Linked DNA regions of Homo sapiens: regions 1 and 2 are each linked to region 3. Evidence: fine-mapped expression QTL. A gene starts in region 3. Each other region holds a variant in brackets. All regions are shown on one strand. Distances are between the middles of the regions.

Region 1 (8,183 bases), 25 kb after region 3:
AAATAGCTAAAAAGCCCAATTTTTCTGCATATGTAGGTTTCATGAAGGGATTTTATCTTTTTTGAGAAGTAGTAGGAGGTAGGTCCTGAATAGGACTTGGGCCCAGAAAGCGGGTGGATTGTAGATTTTGAAGATCAGAATTTGTTTGTGAACCTTTGAAGATTTTGAGTAAAAAGTGTGTAATAGAATCAGAATTCTCCTTAGCAGCAATGAGTAAGATTTAATGGAAAAGTAATAGAAACAGGAAGACTACAGTCTTTAAGAATCTCCTAGGTAGATATGTCTGATATAGAATAGTGACGGTTGGAACTCTGTGGAGGTGATATAATGTGAAGGGAATTACAGAGGTGAAATTGGTATTACTTGGTTGTTTTTTTGTTTTTGTTTTTGTTTTTGAGACAGAGTCTCGCTCTTTCGCCAGGCTGGAGTGCAGTGGTGGGATCTCGGCTCACTGCAAGCTCCGCCTCCAGGGTTCACGCCATTCTCCTGCCTCAGCCTCCCGAGTAGCTGGAACTACAGGCGCCTGCCACCGCGTCAGGCTAATTTTTGTATTTTTTAGTAGAGACGGGGTTTCACCGTGTTAGCCAGGGTGGTCTCGATCTCCTGACCTTGTGATCCACCCGCCTCGGCCTCCCAAAGTTCTGGGATTACAGGCGTGAGCCACCGCACCCGGCCTGTTTTTTTGTTTTTGAGACAGGGACTTGCTCTGTCTCCCAGGCTGGAGTGCATTGAAACAATCTTGGCTCACTGCAACCTATGCTTCCCAGGTTCAAGAGATCCTCCCACCTCAGCCTCCCGAATAGCTGGGACTGCAAGCGTGTGCCACCACGCTTTGCTAATTTTTGTATTTTTTGTAGAGACAGGGTTTCACCATGTTGCCCAGGCTGGTCTCAACTCCTGAGGTCAAGCTCTCTGCCCACCTTGGCCTGCCAAAATGCTGGGATTACAGGCATGAGCCGCTGTGCCCAGCCAATTGGTGTTTTATTTATTGTATCGAATGAGAGCAAGAGAAAAATATTGATGATGACTAATGTTTTGAGCCTAGTGACCGGAAGTTGGTACGATTAATCGTTTGGGGAGGGAAGGGTAACAAGTTTGGGTTTCTACAGATTGAACTTGAGGTGCTTGAGAGATAATCAGGTGCATTCATCTCCTAGTGATCTTATTTAGGTTTATAGCTTTAAATAGCCTTTGTACACTAATAGCTGTCCAGTTTATATTTCTAGAGAAACCTCTTCCTTGAACTACAGGCTAATATTTCAACTATATACTATATATCTCCACTTGGATACCTAATATTCTGATCCACCTTCTCCCTGGATTTCTCCCTCAGCCTTCCCATCTTGGTAAATGGCAACTGAGTGATTTCTCTCTTGCTGTCACACTTGACATTTAGTTCATCATTAAATCCCATCGGTGCTAGCTTCAAGATATCCAGATTTTGATATTTCTCAAAATCTTTCCACCTTCCATTTTGATCTATGCCACCACTATCTCATGCCTGGATGATTGCTATAGTGCTGGTCTTTGCTAATCCTGCCTATTCTTTCTCCTTTTGTCCTTGCCTCCCTTTGTTTGGTTTGTTCTCTCAGCAACCAGAATAATACTTTAAAAACATTAGGCCAGGTGCAGTGGCTCACACCTGTAATCCCAGCATTTTGGGATTACATTAAGTGGAAGGATTGCTTGAGCCCAGGAGTTTGAGACCATCCTGAGCAACATAGCAAGACTCCATCTCTACAAAAATGAAAAATAAAAAGAAATAAATAGGTGGGCATAGTGGCACACGCTTTTATGCTTTTGGTCCCAGCTACTTGGGAGGCTGAGGTGGGAAGATGCTTGAGGCCGGGAGGTTAAGACAATCCTGAGCAACATAGTGAGACACCATCTCTACCCAAAAAAAAAAAAAAAAAAAATTGGTGGGCGCGGTGGTGTGTGCCTTTGGTCTCAGCTACTCTGGAGATTGAGGTGGAAGGATTGCTGGGGCCCAGTAGGTTGAGGTTACAGTGAGTAGCAATTGAGCTGCTGCATTCCAGCCTGGGTGACAGAGTGAGACCTTGTCTCAAAAAAGAAATTTAAAAAAATGATAAAAAGGCTGCATGCGGTGGCTCATGCCTGTAATCCATCCCAGCACTTTGGGAGGCTGAGGCAGGTAGATCACCTGAGGTCAGGAGTTCCAGACCAGCCTGACCAATGTGGTGAAACTGCCTCATCTACTAAAGATACGAAACTGGCTGGGCGTGGTAGTATAGGCCTGTAATCCCAGCTGCTTGGGAGGCTGAGGTAGGAGGATTGCTTGAACCTGGGAGGCAGAGGTTGCAGTGAGCTGAGATGGTGCTATTGCATTCCAGCCTGGGCAACAAGAGTGCGACTCTGTCTCAAAAAAAATAAATAAAATAAAATAAAAATAATTAGCTGAGTGGCCGGGCGCAGTGGCCCAAGCCTGTAATCCCAGCACTTTGGGAGGCTGAGGCAGGTGGATCACGAGGTCAGGAGATCGAGACCATCCTGGCTAACATGGTGAAACCCCATCTCTTCTAAAAATGCAAAAAAAATTTAGCCTGGCGTAATGGCGGACGCCTATAGTCCTAGCTACTCGGGAGGCTGAGGCAGGAGAATGGTGTGAACCCGGGAGGTGGAGCTTGCAGTGAGCTGAGATTGTGCCACTGCACTCCAGCCTAGGCAACAGAGCCAGACTCTTTCTCAAAAAAAAAAAATAATAATAATAATTAGCTAAGTGTGGTGACGCATGCCTGAAGTTCCGGCTTCTTGGGAGGCTGAAGTGGGAGGATTGCTTGAGCCTCAGAGAGTTGAAGTTGCAGTGAACTGTGAGCACATCACTGCACTCTATCCTGGATAATAGAGTGAGGCCTGTTTCTAAAAATAAAAATAAAAACATTAATGAGGTTGTGTCACTCCTCTGCTTAAAGTCTTCCAGTAGATTTTCATCTTGGTGTAAAAGACAGAGTCCTTATATAATGGCCAGTAAGGCCTTCCAGGTTTGGCTTCCCTGCTGTTTTTCTGACCTCGTCTTATGGCACGCTGTGTCACTCTTTCAACACTAGCCACAACTGGCATCCTTGCTGTTCCTTAAACTCACCAGTCAAGCTTCCTCTTTAGGGACTTTGCACTTGTGCCTTTTGCGTGGAAAATTCCCTGTATATCTACATGGCTCCTTTATTTCCTCCAAGCCTCTGTAACAAATGTCATATTTATATTGTATATAAACATACTATATACAGTGTTTGTTTCTTCACTTGTCTGCCGTCTTTTCCTTTACCGGAGTGTAAGCTGCCTGGAGCTCAAAGGCAGGAGCTTGGTCTGTTTTGTTCACTGTCCTTGCCTCTCTTTCAAGACAGATTTTCCACCTCTACATGTGTCTGTGCTGAAGCAGAAGGGTTCATTTTTTCCCTCCTAATTTTAGAAAAATTCATAAAAAGTTCTTTGAGTGTTAAATTTGTCTGCTGAAATTATTTTTAGAAAAAATGTAATAAAATGTAATAGAAGCTAATGGTGTTTGCTGAACTTAATCTTTGACTTATTGTTCTAGCCACTATCGAAAACGATCGGCATCCCGGGGTCGCTCTGGAAGTCGGTCTAGAAGTCGCTCACCCTCAGACAAAAGAAGTAAACGTGGAGATGACAGACGGTCTAGAAGTAGAGATAGAGATAGGAGGAGAGAGAGGTCTCGTAGCAGGGATAAAAGAAGATCTCGGTCAAGGGACAGGAAGCGTCTGAGGTAAGACATTAATTAATTTCCAAAAGACGAGTGATAAATTGGGCCTTCTCGGCTATAGCAGGCTTCTTGAAAAGTATGTTTTCAACTGGAGTTTGGTGGCCCAATTGCAGGCCCTTTTCTTTATCCCCTACTTGTTTGATTAGACCCAGAAGGATGTGCCTACAAAGACTCTATCAAACAGT[G/GT]TTTTTTTTTTTTTTTAATCTTTTTTGAGACAGAGCCTCACTCTGTTGCTCAGACTGGAGTGCAGTGGTATCATCTCTGCTCACTGCAACCTCCACCTCCTGGGTTCAAGCGATTCTCATGCCTAAGCCTGCCAAGTAGCTGGGATTTCAGATGTGCACCACCACACCTGTCTAATTTTTGTGTCTTTAAAAGAGACGGTGTTTTGCCATGTTGGCCAGGCTGCTCTCGATCTCCTGGCCTCATGTGATCCTCCCACCTTGGCCTCCCAAAGTGCTGGGATTACATGTGTGAGCCACCGTGTCCGACCATCAAACAGTGTTTTTAGTTTGGAAACTTTAGGCTGTATTTCCTGTAACCCAAAGACATCCCTTGAAGCCCTCTGAGGGACATACAAAATGAAGTAAAAAGTAAAGTAATAAGTTATATTCAAGAGGGTTCTATTCCAATTCTGCTCCAGGAGAGCTGACCAAGGTGTTAATTTTCTTTCCTTTTTTTTTTGCCACCCTTGTTGAAATTTGTAAAATTTCCTTCCTCTCTCCCTCCTTCCCTCCCTCCCTTCCTCCATCTCTCTCTTCCTTCCTCCCTATCTCCTTCCCTTCCACTCTCTCTCCCTTCCTCCCTCACTCTTTCTCTCTTTCTCTTTCTTTCTTCATTTTGCTAAACAGTGTGTTTAGAGCAGCCTCTAAAGCAGGCAGAAAAAGGAAACAAAGCAGACCCTCTCCAAGCCTCTTAAACTATTTTAATGAGCTGTCATAGATTTAAACTAAAGAGCGCCTTAATCTTTTTTTTTTTTTTAATTTATTTTTTTTTTGAGACAGAGTCTCACTCTGTCACCCAGGCTGGAGTGCAGTGGCACGATCTAGGCTCACTGGAACCTCTGCCTCCCGGGTTCAAGTGATTCTCATGCCTCAGCCTCTTGAGTAACTGGGATTACAGGCATGCTCCACAAAGCCTGGATAATTTTTGTATTTTTAATAGTGACAAAGTTGGCCAGGTATGGTGGCTCATGCCTGTAATCCCAGCACTTTGGGAGGCCAAGGTGGGTGAATCACGAGGTCAGGAGTTTGAGACCAGCCTGGCCAACATGGTGAAACCCCGTCTCTACTAAAAAAAAAAAAAAAAAAAAAATTAGCCAGGTGTGGTGGTGCATGCCTGTAAACCCAGCTGCTCGGGAAGCTGAGGCAGGAGACTTGCTTGAACCTGGGAGGTGGAGGTTGTAGTGAGCCGACATGGTGCCACTGTACTCCAGCCTGGGCGACAGATCAGGACTCCATCTCAAAACAGAAAAAAAGAAAATAATCTTCTGTGCACACCACACCCAGCCAATTAAAAAAAGCTTTTCATAGAGATGGGGGTCTTAACTGTGTTGCTAGTGGCCTCCCAAAGGGTTGGGACTACAGGTATGAGATACCATACCTTGCCCAGTTTCTCATTAAAATAGGAAAGGAAGACAAGATTGTGTTGTGAGTGGATCATAGAAAGAATTTAACTTTATCCTTTTCAGACATTGGAGTACATTGTTGTTACGTAGGATTCAGGGAAAATATTCACCCGTGACAATGTGGATAGCATTTTCACATTTTGTGGTCCTAGGAACAATTTCACACAATTAATTCAAGTACTTAAGTGAAAATGGTTATTTAACATTTGGTCTTTGACTTTTGGGTGTGAAAGTAGAATCACAAGATTTTAGAGCAAGAGGGATTTTAAAGATGTCTAGTGAAGTCTCCATATTTTATAGATGATGAAACTGAGACCCAGAAAGTTGGAGATCTGACCTTCATCATGTCATTAGTTACCAGGAGTAGCAGGATAGAAATTCTTGCCTCTTCATCTTCAGATTAGTGATCTTTTAGTAGACCCATTATGCCCATCCTTATACTTAGGTTTAGGCTATCTGAAACTAGATATTCTATCTTAGACCATCGATTTTCAATCGATGTTAATTACAGACTTATTATGGTTTTTTCACAAACATCTTTATGAAATTAGTATTCTCTGGCCTGGCATGGTGGCTCACGCCTGTAATCCCAGCACTTTGGGAGGCTGAGGCAGGCAGATCACCTGCGGTTGGGAGTTCGAGACCAGCCTGACCAACATGGAGAAACCCCATCTGTAAAAATACAAAATTGGCTGGGCATGGTGGTGCATGCCTGTAATCCCAGCTACTCAGGAGGCTGAGGCAAGAGAATCGCTTTAACCCAGGAGATGGAGGTTGTGGTGAGCTGAGATTGCGCCATTGCACTCCAGCCTGGGCAACAAGAGCAAAACTCTGTCTCCAAAAAAAAAAAAAAAATTAGCCGGGCATGGTGATGCACATCTGTAATCCCAGCTGCTGGGGAGGCTGAGGCAGGAGAATCACTTGAACCCAGAAGGCAGAGGTTGCAGTGAGCTGCAATTGTGCCACTGCACTCCAGCCTGGGTGACAGGTGTGAGACTTTGTCTTTAAAAAAATGAAAGAAATAAATTAGTATTCTCATTTTTTTCGTTGAGCACTTATAAGACTTGGCTTTACTTCATTGAGACCTCCACCTTTAATAATGGTAGTGATTAAGATTCTTTCAATGTGGGACAGAATCCCCTGATCTGAAATAGTAGCTCCATTTGGTCATAGAATAAATGAAAAGTGTCCCCCTTTCAGACGTTCCAGAAGTAGAGAGAGAGACAGAAGCCGAGAGCGAAGAAGATCTCGAAGTAGAGACAGGAGACGCTCAAGGAGTAGAAGCCGGGGCCGGCGATCCCGATCCTCCAGTCCTGGAAATAAAAGCAAGAAAACTGAGAATAGGTAATGTTATCATTGGGCTGCATCTATAGTGCAGACTGGGGACTGCTTCCCTTCTCTGCGCCTTTTTTTTTTTTCCCTGTAAGTTTGTATTTATAGAGAATTAACTGCATTTGGCTCCTACCATGAACTGTTGGCAGTGTTTTATTTTAATTGGCTATAATGTTTATAATTCAACTGGAAAATAATAGATTCTGTCAGTTTTAACATTCAATACATTGTATTCTTACTTAATACATAACTGTCAATCAGAAATGTATTTTATAGACATCTTTGTAGAAACTCTGTCATTTTCTTTTCAGGCAGGGTCTCACTCTGTTGCCCAGGCTGGAGTGAAGTGGCAAGAACATAGCTCACTAACCTTAAACTTGTAGACTCAAGCAATCCTCTCACCTAGGCCTCCAAAAGTCCTGGGATTATATGAAGAGGCAGACATAATATCCCAGCTAATTTTTATGTTTTTAGTGGAGATGGGGTTTTGGCATGTTTGCCAGGCTGGTCTCGAACTCCTGACCTCAAGTGATCTGCCCACCTCGGCTTCCCAAAGTGCTGGGATTACAGGCCTGAGCCACCGCGCCCAGCCAAGACTTGTCTTAAAAGTTAAGAAATTAGGCCAGGCGCGGTGGCTGACGCCTGTAATCCTTGCACTTTGGGAGGCCAAGGTGGGCGGATCACCTGAGGTTGGGAGTTGGCGACCAGCCTGACCATTGTGGATAAACCCCGTCTCTACTAAAAATACAAAATTAGCTGGGCGTGGTGGCGTATGCCTGTAATCCCAGCTACTCTGGAGGCTGAGGCCGGAGAATCGCTTGAACCCAGGAGGCAGAGGTTGCGGTGAGGTGAGATCATGCCGTTGCACTCCAGCCTGGGCAACAAGAGTGAAACTCCTTCTCAAAAAAAAAAAACAAAAAAAAGTTAACAGAAATTAAGACAATGTGCAATTTGTTTAGCAGTGGACAGACAGATTAGTGAACCATGTAAAGAGCCCAGAAAGGCATCCATACACATGGTAATTTGATAGATGACAGAGGTGATGATGTAATAAGTGAAGATTTTTTTTTTTTTTTTAACAGCCAAAGTCTCGTTCTGTTGCCCTGGCTGGAATGCAGTGGTGCAATCTCGGCTCACTGCAACCTTCGCCTCCCGGGTTCAAGTAATTCTCTTGCCTCAGCCTCCCGAGTAGCTGGGACTGCAGGTGTGTGCCAACATGCCCAGCTAATTTTTTGTATTTTTTAGTAGAGATGGGGTTTCACCGTGTTAGCCAGAATGGTCTCGATCTCCTGATCTCGTGATCCACCCGCCTCGGCCTCCCAAAGTGCTGGGATTAAAGGCGTGAGCCACCGTGCCTGGCCAGAAAAATTTTTAAATTGCTCTAGGGATATCTAGTATCCTTTTATGAAATAAGACTGCCTACCTTATTCTGTGTACAAAAAGCAATTCCAAGCAAAGACCAAATTAGATGGCAAAATTCTAAACCTT
Region 2 (8,183 bases), 510 kb after region 3:
AACTACTTCAAACACTTCCCTCTAGACTGTAAGCAACGCGGGGGCAGAGAATGGCTAGTCCTGCTCTCTGCTGGCTCCTCTAGTGTGTTTGTCAAGGTGCCTGGCATACAGCAGAACTGCGCGAGTGTGTGGTTGAGCCCAGGTCTGCGTGTTTCTGAGCCCATGCAAGGTATTTGAAAGTTCCTCTGAGCTCTTCTTTTTGCCCTGTGGCAGCCCCCTTGCCTTCCCTGGAAAGTACTGCTTGTTGGTGGGGGGAGGTCTCGGGTTGACAACACCCTACCGCCAGCTCGCTAGCCCCTTTAGGCCCCGAAGAAACTATTGAGTCATGCATTTTGCTTGGGTTTTGATGATTCGTGATTCATGCTTGTGAGGAAGGCAAGGGAGTGACTCATGCTGATTTAATAAGCTTAGGAATAGTCCTGAGAAGTGGCTGATAAAGTGCCGGCTGGCAGCCCACTCCCCCGTGGCTGCCAGCGCCAAGTGCTCAGAAATCACCAGGTTAAACAAGTCTGCAGAAAATTCAATCTTCCCGGCATGATTTTCCTTATTTGAGCTAATAGCATGAGGCGCCTTTCTCCTGGCACTGCGAAGTGCACCGGTGGCCTTGCCGTCTTCCCTGGGGGCGTGGGGGAGAAGGAGAGCAAATGCCTTACGTTTAGCGGATGCGCTAGGAACGGCTAGGACCTCCCAGGGTTTGCCTTGTGCCCATGGAACCAGCAGTTCCGCCCCAAGGGAAGCCAGCCGTGTGTCCTAGTGCCGGAATGATGGGGTAATGCCAGTGAGCCGCCCCTTCTCCACAGGGTACTGAGAACGAGGCCAGGCAGCAGCTGTCCTGGCCTCTTGGCCCTGTCAGGACTAACACACCTGGGTTGGGCCCACTGGGGTCAGGTTACTCACGGTAAGCAAGTGCAGGTGGAGAGAGGTGGCCCAGAGGAGCAGGCCAAGGTGGCAGGAGATGGGTCATTTCAAATGGCTCGCCAGCAGCCCAGGGGATCCCTGACATCTAGCAGGTATTGACATTGGGATTAACCCTGTGGGTCGATGGTTCCGTGCTGATTCCTCATGTGCCTCTGCGTCAGATTGCTCAGGCAAGAGGGCTGGAGAAAAAAATCAGAGATGCACCCAACTTGGTCAGTATCTGTGCAGCGATCCTGTTATGGTTGGCAGTCCCTTACTTTGAAGCTCTGATTCCTTTCAGAAGCTTCTGAAGTTCAAAGGAGCAGGTGGGGGTGGATAGGTCATTGAGAAAGGGCAGACCCTGTTCAAAAGTAAGATACTTCCTAAATCTGGTCTCCTTTCTGTAAGTTCTTTGGTGTCCCTCCCCATATGTGTTGAGCCCCTTGTGGCATGTTAAGCTCAGTGCTGGGACCAGCCAGGGGAACAAGGGTTCTGCCTTCATGAGTCTGAGACCTGTTTAGAGTGCAGCCTCTCCTCCCACTTTCCTCTCCTCTCCCCTCCTCCGATGCATCTATCCATCCAAAAAAATGCTATTGTGATAACACACATAAAGCATTTAGCATTATGATCAGCTTCATAATTGCTAGTTTTTATTTCATAATTAATATTATTAGGTCAGATGTGGTGGCTCACACCTGTAATACCAGCACTTTGGGAGGCCGAGGTGGGAGGATCACCTGAGGTCAGGAGTTCAAGACCAGCCTGGCCAACATAGCAAAACCCCATCTCTATTAAAAATAGAAAAATTAGCCAGGCGTGGTGGTGCACGCCTGTAATCTCAGCTACTCTAGAGGCTGGGCACGAGAATCGCTGGTACCCGGGAGGCAGAGGTTGCAGTGAGCCGAGATCATGCCAGTGTACTCTAGCCTGGGTGACAGAGCAGACTTTGTCTCAAAAAATAAATAAATAGATAATGTTTATTGCTATTATTTGACATCTCTTGCATGCCAGGCAAAAAAAAAGGTGAATACTGGTGCAAATTGGTGAGCGTGTTATGTGACAGCTGGAAATCCTAGAGCTGGTCTAGCCTCACCCCTCATGCTGCAGATGGGGATACTGAGGCCTAGAAAGAAATGAAGAGATTGATGGGAGTCTCATAGGGAGGGCATGGCTAGGCCAAGCCTGGAACTCAGGGCTCCTTCTGCCGTGGCATGCAGCTGTCATGCTGGGATGGGGTGGTCCGAGGAGGCTTCCTGGAGGAGGTGGGTTTTGAGATGAGCCTTGGGATGAGAGTAGGAATGAGATCAGCAGGAGAGGAGAAGCGAGAAAGGGCAGAGCACAGTGGCCCAGGATGGTGTGGAGGAGGGAGCCACAAGGGGAGAAAGGTCAGGAGAGACTGGGTGGGGGGCACCAGAGCCATCTCTGTAGCATCTTTTGAGGAGTGCCGCAAAGGCCTCACTGCTCCCACATCCTGCACTCTGCCACTGCCATCAGGTACTTCCTCCTGGCACGTGCAGATCAAATGGTGGCCCTGGGGCCCGAGGCTCCGTCTGCTTGCCTGCCTCAGCGCTCATGCTCAGTGGGGACCCATGGGTCCAGGCTGGAAGTCACAGGCCAGGCATCCATGCTGAATGCATCTCTCCTGGGAGAGCAAACCCATTCAGTCATAATTTGCCATTAACCCCTTATATTAGTTTCCTAGCCCTGCTGCAACAAATTGCCACACACCAAGTGGCTTAAAACAACAGAAATTTATTCTCTCAGAGTTCTGGAGGCCAGAAGTTCAAAACCCAGGTGTTGGCAGGGTTGACTCCTTCGGGAGGATGTGCGGGGTGATCTGTCCTGCTTCTCGCTCGTGGCTTCTGGAGGCTGCTGGCAGTCCTTGGCATGCTGTGGCTTGTGACTATGTAACTCTAGTTTCTGCCTCTGTCTTCATGTGGCCTCCTGCTCTGTGACATCTCTTCTTCTTATAAAGGCTCTTGTCATCAGGTTTAGGAACAACCTGGTTGAGTCAGCCTGGTCTTCATCCTGAGATCTTTAACTTAATTATATCTGCAAAGACTTATTTTTCCAAATAAGTTCATGCTCATGGGTCCTGGGTGGACGTATCCTTGGTGGTGGTGGGGCAGTGGGGCACCATTTTCGCTACACCCCTGGAGCAGTGTGACAGTGTGGCCTTGGGAGATGAGTCACAAGGGAACTTTTGTTGAGATAAGAGGATAAGTCTGGGTGAGACATTGCACTGGGGATCCTGGGCAAATTCCCAGAAGTGTTTGGGCCTTGGCTGTAGAGGTTTTTCTGAGACTGAAGACTCAGGACCCAGCTCTGAAGTGATGATCAGGGCTTCTTGATAGGCACCGCCATGTTGGGGATGGACCTCTGTGCCCATGGTCCACTCGGGGGCTCATCCAGGGCAGTGCTATCCATCAGAACCTTCCGTGGTGATGGAAATGTTCTTCAGATCTGAGCTGTGCAACACAGTGGCTCCTAGTCCTGTGTGTCTATTGAGCTTTTGAAATACCCGCTCTGGCTCGTGCAGCTGAAGGACTAGATTTTTTACTTCTATTTAATTTTAATTTTAATTTTAACTTAGATAGGCCTACGGGACTAGTGGCTTCTGTACTGAGCATCACAGCTCCACAGTGTCTTGATTTCACCCCTTCTCCTCGTCTGTTTTTCATTTCACTATCAAAAATGTAATTTAACACAAGAACTGAAATTGTTCTTTTGTTTTTTTTATGTACGTAATGCTTAAAGTTTTAACTTTTGGCTTAGAGACAGAGGCCAGATGGAGTTGACTGGTTTTAGGCCCAGTACAAGAAAGCATGGCCTCCTCTTGCAGTGAAATGGAAAAGAGGAGTGTTTTCCTGTGGACAGTGCTGTGGCTCACAATTGCCTGGTAGTTAAG[C/T]GGGAGAAGCAGTTGGAGAGGCTGCAGTAAAATCTACAGTCACTGGCAGCAAGGAGGTTGCTGCAAGGTTTCTTTGAGCCAGAAAGAAGGGATGAGAACCCATGTCCACATCCCTGGGCCTTGTTTGGAAGTCTATGAGTTAGGGGTTCTTTGCTCTTTATCATGGTTTCTGAGAAGCCACAGGTGAAATTTGGGTCTCATAAAGCAATTTTCCCCCAAATTACTCCTCGTATTCCTGCTTCCACAGATGGATATTGTATACTGTCTTGCTTTAGAGTGAGGATATTTATTTTTGCACACTGTTTAGACATGATCTTAAACAACACTTCATTTATTTACACGTTGGCATGTTTTTGACCCTTCTGGATGAAAAATAAAGTGTTTGCCTGAGAGCAGAAAATCTCCAATGAGGCGGCTCTTCATAGGGTGATGGGATCTTCATGGGCTTAAACTATATGGGCTTTAAGCTCAAGCTCATCTCCTTTTCCTTGCTTCTTCCTGGCAAACCAGACACAGTAGCATCAAGACTCAAAGCGCCTGCCTCTGTGCTTATGCTCCATGGGCACCCATGTGTCCAGGCTAGAAGTCACAGGCCAGGAAGAGGAGGAGGTTCTGGGCCTCAGACTCTGCTAATGCAGGCAGATCAGGCCTATTTTAGATGGGGATTTGTAGAGGTGTCTACTGCTTGGGGTCATGCTAGCACTGCGCTGTGTACATGTAAGACACAAATTAGGGATTTAGAGGCGCGGAGGCTGCTGAGTGTTGCTAGGCAACCTTTCAGCTGGGCCTGGCGGTAACACAATCTCTGGGAGCAGCCCGGTAGGAAGGCCTCCTAAGGACAAAACTGAACTTTAGAAACAGCGTCTTCTGCAACTGCACCTGCCTCGCTTGCCTCTGGAAAGGGTGGGGGCAGGTCAGCAGAGCCATGCTGTTATATAAGCTACTTGGGGGAATTGTGCATCCGTGGATTCTTTATGTGTTATGTCTTCTTTTCCTTATGTATTTATTTATATCCCACCTTGTACAAAAGAGGATCTGTGGTGGCTTTCAGAAACACTGATGTTGCGGCAGGACAAACATTAAATAAGAAGAACCTGGGGCAAATGGAAAGGAAGGGTAAGAAAATAGGAGTGTGGTTTGTCACTCAGCAAGGATACTGAGGATTTACCATGTGCTTGGCTCTGTAGATACAGCAGTGAACAGAAAAACAGCCATGGTTCCTGCCCTCCTGGAGCTTACAGTCTAATAGGAAAGGTGCAGGGGTAGGGTGGGGGAGGGAGGAAGAAAGGCCATTATGGATCCAGTGCTTTTGTTGAGGGTAGGCTGCAGATTAGACTGTGAGTCTCCTGGCGGCCAAAGCAAGAGGTGACTACAATTATGAGGGACTGGGTATGTTATCAGTGTTGTGTTGGTAACAGTACAGCGACAGTAGCTTCATCCTACTGTCCTGGGTGTGCAGATTATGACACAGGTGCCGCCAGGCCCTGTGCAGAGATGCTCCCTTCTTTCCTGCTTTGCTGTCAGCCTCCCTTTGGCACCAGCCTCCTGGTTGGGTTCATGTCATCCAGGACATCCTGGTGGCCATCCCTCAAGTGAAGGGCTTGGGTGCTCTTGGGCCCAGCCAGTCCCAGAACTCTTCCCTGCAACCTTCCACTCATGTCCTAGGCCAGACTGTTCTCTCCTTCTAGAATGCCACTTACCTCTGTTGTCTCTGTCTTCTCTCCTTGCCCATTTAGGGCCCTTTATAGTTTCTAATGTGCCCTTTACTGATAGCATTTTATTTGCTTCTTCCAGTGATATGGTTTGATTCTGTGTCCCCACCCAAATCTCATCTCGAATTGTAATCCCCATGTGTTAAGGGAGGGACCTCTAATCCCCACATGTTCAGGGGAGAAGTGATTGGATTATGGGGGCAGTTTCCCCCATACCATTCTCATGATAGTGAGTGAATTCTCATGAGATCTGATGATTTTATAAATGGTAGTTTTCCCTGCACTCTCACATGCTTTCTCTCCCTTGCCGCCATGTAAGACATGCCTGCTTCCCCTTCCACCATGATTGTAAGTTTCCGGAGGCCTCCCCAGTCATGCAGAACTGTGAGTTAATTAAACCTCTTTTTTTTTTTTTTTTAAATAAATTACCCAGTCTTGGGGAGTGTCTTTATAACAGTGTAAGAGCGGACTAATACATCCAGCAACCTGGTGAGCTATCTGTGATTTTAGTCATTTACAGCAAAAGGAAGCAGAGGCACAGCCTGGCCTGGGTTTGCCTGAGGTTCCACAGCTTCCTGACCCCATTGACGCCTATCTTTGGCTTCATCACATTTGGCATATATGACTTTGCTTCTATAGTGGGCATGCAGCTTGCTTATAGACTCTGGAAGAGCCTAATCCTTCTGCTTCTGGCATCTCTCTGGGAGGCAGGCCAGAATTTCATTACCCCTTCCATGATCAGGCCAGGGTCATCCCTTCATCCCATGGATATGAGTATCTGAGGTCTCATTCTCCCAAGGCAGTCGTTTTGTTTGTCTGTCTGTCTGTTCATTTGTTCATTCAACAAATATGTCTCGAGCAAGCCAGGCACTGTGTACTAATCACCCACCATCCTTGCCCTCAAGGAGCTCACAGTTTAGTTGAAGAAGGATCAACACATGTGAGATGACAGTGCAGAATAAAGAAAGTGTGAGTGTGAGTTAGGGTATTAGTCAACAGCAGCACTGGGTGCTTAGAGTGACAGGAGGTCTGGGACCAAGACATATGGAATGGTTGTAAGGTCTGAACAAATTTAGCCTAGTTGTGTTTTTATTTCAGTTGCTGTTGATTAACACTCTAACTCACACTCACACCTTCTTTATGCTGCACTCTAATCTCACATGTGCTGATCCTTCTAATTGGGCAAAGTTCACTTTAAAGTGCAAGGACATCGAATGCCATATACCCTTGTACGACTTACCCATAGAAGCAAGAAAGGCCTTACCTCCTGTGTTCTTAGAAGCATACTTCTATTAATGCACCCTTAATTTGCAGCAGCCTGGTGGTATAAGAGACAGCCTTGGATAGGTATGCCTGCATTGTAAGCCTCTCATACAAGAGGAGACTTCTTGAGCACTTGGAGACATAGGGCCCTCTTTTCCCTGAGGATTGTTGAAGGAATCTTATTTAAGAACATGAGGGCAAGTGCCTTGTGCGTGTCCCATTAATGAATGCTGCCCGCTCTCAGGTTACATAGCAGTGGTCTTGGATGGATTTCAATGTTTTGATCCCTCTTTAAAGAAAGCAACCGCAGCTATCCCAATTATGAATTTGGAAATACCCTTGAGCAGCCGTTGGGGTGAGAGTCGATTGGGCCATTGTGTTATCATTCCACGCATCTCCCAGAGATAGAGACCTGTATAAGTAAAACCATATTTCTGTTTTTTACGATCCAAGATACCAATCCCAGGACTATCGGGCAGACTCAGGAAGCAGCACATGGGGAACATTCTCAGACTTGGTAAGTAGCTGGCCTGCTGATAGAGGAGATTAAGGTGCTTTTGATCTCTTCTCCCCTAATGACAATGTCTCTAGTTTTAAAAATGACTGGGGGAAGTCTTTCTTTGAACAGTCAAGAGGCTGCTTCAAAAAGAGCTCACACTATTTCTAGACAATGTGTCTGGGAAATTATGCTGCTGAATTGTAAGTGGAGTTAGATGAATTTTCCCTTCTGCCCCCTTGAAATCATGACTTCGCCATTCAGATGCATTAGCTGATGACCCTCAGTGCACCAAGGCTCCCCACTTTCTCCTGGAGTCAGGCCACCTGTCGAGGCTCCAGCCCCTCAGAGGTCGGCTCTGGACAGTCACACCTGTCTGCATTTGCCCGAGGAGTCATTTGTATGCTTTAGGGCATTGCTTTGCTGCCATACTCTGCAACCTCCATCCAATCTTGGCCCTCTGCCTGTTATTTTGAGCAGGTAACCTAGGGAGAGGGACCTCCTGAAGACAGCAGAATGATGTAAAGGTATTCTGGTGAGATTAAGTCTGGAAGCAGCAATTCCTTGTGCAAGATGTGTGAGGGAAAAAAAAATATGTGAGTGTTGCTTTGGCCCTGAATGCGTGGAGAGCTATATGAATTAGTAGAACTCAGATGTCAAATCATCAGTGAAAGAAAATCTGGCTTAAGTAAACATTTAACACCTCACTCATGTCTTCATGACATGGAGATTAAGAGTGTGAACCTTAATGTAGACTGCTTGGGTTCAAGTCCCAGTGTCTCCAGTTATTAGCTGTGTGGTCTTGGGCAAGTCATTTAATTTCTCTGAACATAAATTTCCTCATCTAGAAAATAGCATCTAGCTCATTGAATTTTGAGAAATGAAATAATGCATAAATAAAACACCT
Region 3 (8,183 bases):
CACGAGGTCAGGAGATCGAGACCATCCTGGCTAACACGGTGAAACCCCGTCTCTACTAAAAATACAAAAAAAATTAGCCGGGTGTGGTGGCCGGCGCCTGTAGTCTCAGCTACTTGGGAGGCTGAGGCAGGAGAATGGTTTGAACCCAGGAGGCGGAGCTTGCAGTGAGCCAAGATTGCGCCACTGCACTCCAGCCTGGGCGACAGAGCAAGACTCCATCTCAAAAAAAAAAAAAATTATCTGGGCTCAATCCTGTAGCCTTAGCTACTCAGGAGGCAGAAGCAGGAGGATTGCTTGAGCCCAGGAGTTCAAGGCTGTAGGCTGCAGTGAGCTATGATTGTGCCCCTGCACTCCAGCCTAGGCCATAGAGTAAGACCCTGTGTTTATAAAAATAAAAATTTGACTCATTATGGAATTTAGAGGAAGTAATTTGCTAATTTCTGAAAATTGTTCTTGAATTTCTTTTAAGCAGTTTCATCAATTCATTCTTTTACTCTTTTTCTTTTGAGACAAGGTCTAGCTCTATCACCCAGGTGGTTGTGGAGTGATGCAATCATGGCTCATTGCAGCAAACTTCCTGCCTCGTTTTAAATTTTTTTAAATTTTTTGATTTTTTTTTTTTTCTAGAGACGAGGTCTCACTATGTTACCCAGGCTGGTCTTGAACTCCTAAGCTTAAGCAGTCCTCCCACCTTGGCCTCCCAAAGCGTTGGGATTACAGGTGTGAGCCACTGCGCCTGGACTCTTTTTTTTTGTTTTTCTGAGACAGAGTTTCACTCTGTCGCCCAGGCTAGAGTGCAGTGGTGCAATCTCAGCTCACTGCAACCTCTGCCTCCTGGGTTTGAGTGATTCTCCTGCCTCACCCTCCCGAGTAGCTGGGATTACAGGTGTGTGCCACCATGCCTGGCTAATTTTTGTATTTTTAGTGGAGATGGGTTTCATCATGTTGGCCAGGTTGGTTTCGAACACCTGACCTCAAGTGATCCACCCACCTCAGCCTCCCAAAGTGCTGGGATTAAAGGTGTGAGCCACCGCACCTGGCCTCCCGATCTCTTTTCTTTGTTTTTAAATAGAGAAGGGGGTCTCACTATGTTGCCCAGGTCAGTCTTGAGCTCCTTGCCACAAGTGATCCTCCTGCCTGGACCTCCCACATGCCAGCCCAGACATTTTTTATAATTCTGTTCAAGTTCAGTTATACGGCTTCCTCAGTTTCAAGGAGGAATGAAATATTACTTGGAAATAATTTGCTTGATGCTTATATCATTGAATATAACACTATAATTCTAATTTAGCTCCTCAAACCCTTTCTGGAACCGTCTTGATTGATCAGGGCTGTGCCTCATCAAATTCTGCACATTTGTTACTATTTGACAGTTATTTCCATTATTTTCAGTTGTGTGTAAAATTGTTTTAAGGAAGTCTAGGGCTCAGAGATCTATGTCTGTGCAGATATGCAGAAGAACTTCCTCTAATACTTTAAAATTATTAACTAGTGGATGTCCCTGGGATTTAACTTTCATCCAATCAAGGGTGAAAGTTCAGTCTGTATATTCTTTGAGCTCCTTATGTTGTTGAATCCAAACCGAAGTTTCTTTTGTTTTCACTTCTTTTTCAGTATTAATATAAATATAGTATTTTATTATCTTCTAAGTGGTATTTCACCCACTTCCTTATTTTGAGGGTGATTGTGTGGCAGGCTTAGTTGCAGGGGGCCCACCCAGTAAGCTGCTTCAAAACCCTCCTCAGCCTCAGGTGTGAACTGGCCATGCTCCCTGTTAGCAAGGGTTGATGGATTCAATTCCTTCATTCATCTAATCATTCACTTAGTAAGTCATTACTGAATGCCAAGGCTGCATTATGACTTTCAAGGGCCCTAAGCTCTTTTGCCTTTGTGGCTCCTTCCTGCCTGAAAACATACTTAAAATTATATTTTATGACTGTATTGCTATTAATGATGACTATAATCCAGACTGGATCCATTACAATATAGCAAATATATTATTTTTTTCTGAAAAAACTTTTTTGAGATGGGGTCTCACTGTGTCACCCAGTCTGGAGTGCAGTGGCCCGATCATTGCTCACTGCAGCTTCAACCTCCCCAGGATCAGGTGATCCTCCCACCTTAGCCTCCCAAGTAGCTGGGACCACAGGCACACGCCACCAAGCCCGACTAATTTTTGTATTTTTAGTACAGTCAGGGTTTTGCCACGTTGGCCAGACTGGTCTCGAATTCCTGGCCTCAAGTGATCCACCCATCTCAGCCCTCACAAAGTGCTGGAATTACAGGCATGAGCCACCGCGCCCAGTCATTTGTTCTGATTTTATTTTATTTATTTCTTTTATATATGTATTTTTGAGACGGAGTCTCCCTCTGTCGCCCAGGCTGGAGTGCAGTGGCATGATCTCGGCTCACTGCAATTTCTGCCTCCCAGGTTCAAGCGATTCTCCTGCCTCAGCCTCCCAAGTAGCTGGGATTACAGGTGCATGCCACCAGGTCAGGCTAATTTTTGTATTTTTAGTAGAGACGGGGTTTTGCCATATTGGCCAGGCTGGTCTCGAACTCCTGACCTCAGGTGATCCGCCTGCCTCGGCCTCCCAAAGTTAGGATTACAGACGTGAGCCACCGCTCCCGGCCTTTTTGTTTTTTTCTTTTCTTTTCCTTTTTTTTTTTTGAGACGGAGTCTCGTTCTGTCGCCCAGGCTGGAGCATCTTTAGCATGCGAGGTGGTCATGAACGACAAGGAGAAAAAACAAGGTGAAGGGGAATGGGGAGTGTTGGCAATTTAGATAGAATGTGCACGAAAGGTTTCAATGGGAAATTCTAATTTGAATAAAAACGCACAAAACGCGAGGAAAGCCTAGGAACACATCAGCCGTATACTTTGCCGTAGAGAAGTTAAGGATGAGGAACAGGCACCAAGAACAAATCCCAGCGTAAGGCTCCCTTTAAGTGCGGCTCCCAGGGTTACGTATTCCCATTGCCTACAGGCGAGGCCGCGGGTCTGTAAACAAGCGACTGCCGCTGCAACCTCCATTTTGCTTCCTGGCACCAAATCTAGGCTGACCTACTTACTGCCATCCCTTTCCCACTCCCGGTTTTCTTTTCTTTCTTTTTTTTTTTCTCGAGACAGAGTCTCGCTCTGTAGCCCAGGCTGGAGAACAGTGGCGCGATCTCGGCTCACTGCAACCTCCGCCTCCTGGGTCCAAGAGATTCTCCTGCCTCAGCCTCCCGAGTAGCTGGGATTACAGGCGCGCGCCACCCCGCCCGGCTAAGTTTTTGTATTTTTAGTAGAGACGGGTGGGGGGAGGGGGGAGGGGGTCACCATGTTGGCCAGGCTACTCTCGAAATCGTGACCTCGTGATCCGCCCGCCTCGGCCTTCCAAAGTGCTAGGATTACAGGCGTGAGCCACCACTCCCGGCCCTGGGTGCTGGTTTTCTTCACCTCCGAGTGAACAGCAGAGGGGGCTGTTGGGTGAGGGCCAGAAGAGTTGGGGAGGCACGAGGGCGTCCAGCGCTGCCCTCACTCAAGATGGCGGCCAGAGCCTCGCGCTTGGTCGCGTGGGGCGGTGCGTGAGTGCTTAGCTCACAGGCTCCGGGACCGCGCTCGGGGGCGGGTCTATAGTGGGAAGGGGACGCGCGCCCTGCGGCCCGGCCTCTAGTCATCGCCCTCGCAGCGGCGGCCAACATCACCGCCACTGCCACCCCTCCCAGACTGTGGACGGGAGGATGGAGTCGATGGCCGTCGCTACCGACGGCGGGGAGAGGCCGGGGGTCCCAGCGGGCTCAGGTCTGTCGGCTTCCCAGCGTCGGGCGGAGCTGCGTCGGAGAAAGCTGCTCATGAACTCGGAACAGCGCATCAACCGGATCATGGGCTTTCACAGGCCCGGGAGCGGCGCGGGTAAGAGCCTCGATTTCCCCTCAGTCTCCCGCCCATCACCTTGAATCTTCAGGGTCATTCTTCCCTCTCCCACCTCCACTCCTCTGACCTTTTTGACCAAGCCTTGCTCTTTGATTTCCTCTCTGTCCCGCCCCTTCGGTGATATCCCAAGTTCTCATCCCTGAACCCCAGGATGTTCCTAGTCGCTCCCCTCAATTTTCCCGGGGCCTCGCCGTGAGATTTTCCCCACCCTGCCTGCAGAGCTCTCACTCCCTCTTCCCAGTTACGTTGAACAGCCCCTTTTTTCCTTAGCCACTCCTCGCCTTTCTTGAAGGGCGCACGTTGTATCCCCAGACTGTCATGTCTACTGCTCCCCTTAGGAAGATGGCTTTCCTTCTTAAGGTTCCAAGTGCTTTTCCTTACAGTGCCTTCTCTAGCGTCTACCTTCTTTTGCCTTTTGCTGTGTAACTCCTGTCCGCCCACATCAGCCTGTCTTTACTGAACTGCCCGCTAGTTCATCCTACGTGTATCAGGGACTCTTGTGCTCATATCCTAGTGTTTGTGTTCAGTGCCGTCAACACTGTCACCTACGGGCCGGCTAGAAAAGGTGGGAAAAGTGAGAGTGAGCATTCTTCAGAGACCCAGCAAGTGCGAAGTGCACACCTGAGAGTTTCCTCTCCTCATGAGGGGATATTGTTGTGATTGATGTCTGGAGCTGCATTTCTAAGGAGAGCGCCTCCTTCCTCCCCCAAACACATGTCCAATGATTTTCTTTAAAAAAAATTTATTTCACGTGAGTATAATTGAGCAATTAGCGCGCCCTAGTGTTATCTAAGTTTCCAGTGTTTCCTTTAGTAATTGGCCTTTAGTCACTGGTCGCAAGCTCCTTATATCTTTGTGACTTTTGTTCTGTAAGGCTTTAGGTGTATAGCTCTGAACTTTTAGGCAGTTCAAATGAGAGGTAAGAAAACCATTTCAAATTCTTCTAGAACAATAGAAGAAACATTTTTCTATCGGGCTATTTATTCTTAAAGCATTATTTATGATCTTACCTGAGGTACTTTCTATATTTTGTTCTTTTGCTTTGAAAATTTTATGTCTTTAAAGGTTGTTTTATTTTTTGAGACAGGGTCTCCCTCTGTAGGCCAGGCTGGAGTGCAGTGGCATGATCATAGCTTACTGCAGCCTCAAACTCCTGGGCTTAAGCAATCCTGCTACCTCAGCCTCCGGAGTAGCTAGGACCACAGGTGTACACCACCATGCCTGGCTAATTTAAAAAAAAATTGTGTGTGTGGAGATGGGGGGGTCTCACTATGTTTCCTAAGCTGGTCTGGAACTTCTGGGCTCAAGTGATCCACCAGCCTTGGCTTCCAAAAGTGCTGGGCTTACAGGATTACAGGTGTGAGCCATTGTGCCTGGCCTTTTTTTTAAAACAAAAACAAAAACAAAACCCCAGAGTAGTGTCTTAAAACTGCTGAAGTGCCTACTAATGGCTGCCTGACTACATAAACAGTAGCTTTGGGATATGCCACACCCTATGCTCATAGGGCACTGGATTCAGAAATCTAATTTTAAAATATAGATTTTAAAAGGCTTTACTGATTTTATATTTTTAACCAAATAAGCTAAGGCAGGCAATGCAATCATACATCTGGGATATATTATCCATAAAAAGTTGGTCTTTTCAGCTTGCTCCATCTCTGAATATCTTTCCCAGTTTGTCTACTAATCTTATCTCCTACCCACAAAGTTTGGGTTATTTCCTCTGCAGAATATTCATTTTGGGTGATACATTTTGAGGGTGTAGAGGAAGAATCCAGCTTTTTTCTTTTTTTTGTTTTGAGATGGAGTCTCACTCTGTCGCCAGGCAGATGCAGATGGAGTGTAGTGGCGCAGTGTCTGCAACCTCCTCCCCCCGGGTTTCAAGTGATTCTCCTGCCTCAGCCAGAGTAGCTGGGACTATAGGCAGCTGGGACTACAGACACACGCCACCACACCCAGCTAATTTTTGTATTTTTAGTAGAGACGGGGTTTCACCATGTTGGCTAGGATGGTCTCAATCTCTTGACCTCATGATCCGCCCGCCTCAGCCTCCCAAAGTGTTGGGATTACAGGCGTGAGCCACGGCACCTGGCCGAAACCAGCTTTTCTTTAATGCAGAATCGGTATTTATTTATTTTGATGCAGAGGCTGCTGAGTTCTAGCTGCAACAGCATATTTTAAAACATAAACATGTAAGGTGTTTGCCAGTATGGAATAAATACATAAGGCTTTTACATTTCTTTTCTCAGAAGAAGAAAGTCAAACAAAATCAAAGCAGCAGGACAGTGATAAACTGAACTCCCTCAGCGTTCCTTCCGTTTCAAAGCGAGTAGTGCTGGGTGATTCAGTCAGTACAGGAACAACTGACCAGCAGGGTGGTGTGGCCGAGGTAAAGGGGACCCAACTGGGAGACAAATTGGACTCGTTCATTAAACCACCTGAGTGCAGTAGTGATGTCAACCTTGAGCTCCGGCAGCGGAACAGAGGGGACCTGACAGCGGACTCGGTCCAGAGGGGTTCCCGCCATGGCCTAGAGCAGTACCTTTCCAGATTCGAAGAAGCAATGAAGCTAAGGAAACAGCTGATTAGTGAAAAACCCAGTCAAGAGGATGGAAATACAACAGAAGAATTTGACTCTTTTCGAATATTTAGATTGGTGGGATGTGCTCTTCTTGCTCTTGGAGTCAGAGCTTTTGTTTGCAAATACTTGGTAAGAAAAGATCTGTAAATTATTAACTAACTTAATGGAAAATGCAAAATGTTAATAATTATGAGTGCTTTTGATCATAGAAGTCATTGCCAGTATTAATATCTACCAGATCCATGTGGCTGTTTGAAGATATATTATTAACTTTGCTATTCATCTCATAGAATGAAGTGTTCTGGTTAAATACAGAGCCTAATAATTACTGTTGGCCCTCCATATCAGTTGGTTCTGCACCCTATGTGGATTCAACCAATTGTGGATTGAAAATATTTGGATTTAGCCGGGCGTGGTGGTGCACGCCTGTAATCCCAGTTACTTGGGAGGCTGAGGCAGGAGAATCGCTTGAACCCGGGAGGTGGAGGTTGCAGTGAGCCAGGATAACGGCACTGCACTCCAGCCTGGGTGACAGAGTGAGACCCCGTCTCAAAAATATATGTATGTGTATATATTTGGGGGAAAAATAACAATACAACAATAACAAATAGTAAATAATACAAATAAAAACAGTATAACAACTATTTACATTGCATTAGGCATAAAAAATCTAGAAATGATTTAAAGTATATGGGAGGAAGTGAGTAGGTTATATTTACTGTGCCGTTTTACATAAGGGACTTGAGCATCTATGGATTTTGGTATCAGGAGGAACCTGGTACCAGTCCTCTGCTGATACTGAGGGATGACTGTACTAAAACCCATTTTTCATTCTACGGACCTTTCTCATTGTTTTGCATACATTAATTCATCTAATCCTCATTCTTATGAACTTGGTATTATGTGAATCCATTGGGAAATGAAGACTCAGAGAGGTTAAACCATTTGCCCAAGGTCACACAGCTACTAAGCGGTGCTAGGATTAAACCCTGGCAGTTTCAGTCCTTAACCAAAGGGTTAAGTGCTTTACATATATATACTGTATATTATCAATTTTCAAATAATTTGAAATAGTAAAATGCAGTTCCTCTGGTCCTGAATATGAGGTAATCTTCCTATGGTTCAGAAGACATTTCAGCATTTCCTAATATATCATAATGAGTCCATTTTGGTTGTACCATGATGTAGTCATTTTGTTTTATAGTATATTAAAGAATGCAGAAAAGCATAGCTCATAGTTCAGTGTCTTGCTCTGAGGTTTTTCCATTCAGTAGACATTTTAAGTATATGTACCAGGCACATAAATATCCAGATAATTAAAGTTTATATCATTAAGCAAAACAGTTTTTGTAAATCTTTTTTTTTTTGAGGTGGAGTTTCTTTCGCCAGGCTGGAGTGCAGTGATGTGATCTTGGCTCACTGCAACCTCCACCTCCTGGGTTCAAGCGATTCTCCTGCCTTAGCCTCCCGAGTAGCTGGGACTACAGGCATGTGCCAACACGCACGGCTAATTTTTTGTATTTTTAGTAGAGATGGGGTTTCACCGTGTTAGCCAGGATGGTCTCCATCTCCTGACCTCATGATCCACCCAACTCTGCCTCCCAAAGTGCTGGGATTACAGGCATGAGCCGCCGCACCCAGCCAAGCATTTAGTTTTGTTGTTGTTGTTGTTTTAGAGATAGGA

Alleles and levels. Positions count from the first base shown, and alleles are read on the strand shown. Sizes are in standard deviations (SD) of each study's normalised expression. Not every link is listed here.
For the expression in monocytes of the gene that starts at base 3,653 in region 3, G is the low allele of the variant in region 1 and GT is the other (moderate effect, 0.74 SD a copy in Kim-Hellmuth 2017).

The links. PIP is the estimated chance that this variant, and not a neighbour inherited with it, causes the effect.
Region 1: its variant is fine-mapped to the expression of CAMLG in monocytes (Kim-Hellmuth 2017, PIP 0.95).
Region 2: its variant is fine-mapped to the expression of CAMLG in monocytes (Kim-Hellmuth 2017, PIP 0.95).

What each region holds. Positions count from the first base shown.
Region 1 is chr5:134,760,354-134,768,536 of GRCh38, forward strand. DDX46 (DEAD-box helicase 46) reads left to right here. Exons shown (of 23, transcript NM_001300860.2): 2 at 3,551-3,739; 3 at 6,564-6,707. Among named protein-coding and RNA genes, the nearest start is that of DDX46, 5.7 kb to the left of the region's middle. The variant G/GT (reference allele first, on the strand shown) is at 3,922.
Region 2 is chr5:135,246,716-135,254,898 of GRCh38, forward strand. All of the region lies in intron 3 of PITX1-AS1 (PITX1 antisense RNA 1), which reads left to right. LINC02900 (long intergenic non-protein coding RNA 2900) reads right to left here and starts at 1,462. Exons shown (of 4, transcript NR_037895.1): 1 at 1,411-1,462; 2 at 898-1,097. RefSeq lists an enhancer at 1-1,111. The variant C/T (reference allele first, on the strand shown) is at 3,806.
Region 3 is chr5:134,734,896-134,743,078 of GRCh38, forward strand. CAMLG (calcium modulating ligand) reads left to right here and starts at 3,653. Exons shown (of 4, transcript NM_001745.4): 1 at 3,653-3,897; 2 at 6,168-6,628. The coding sequence starts at 3,726. RefSeq lists an enhancer at 3,241-3,290.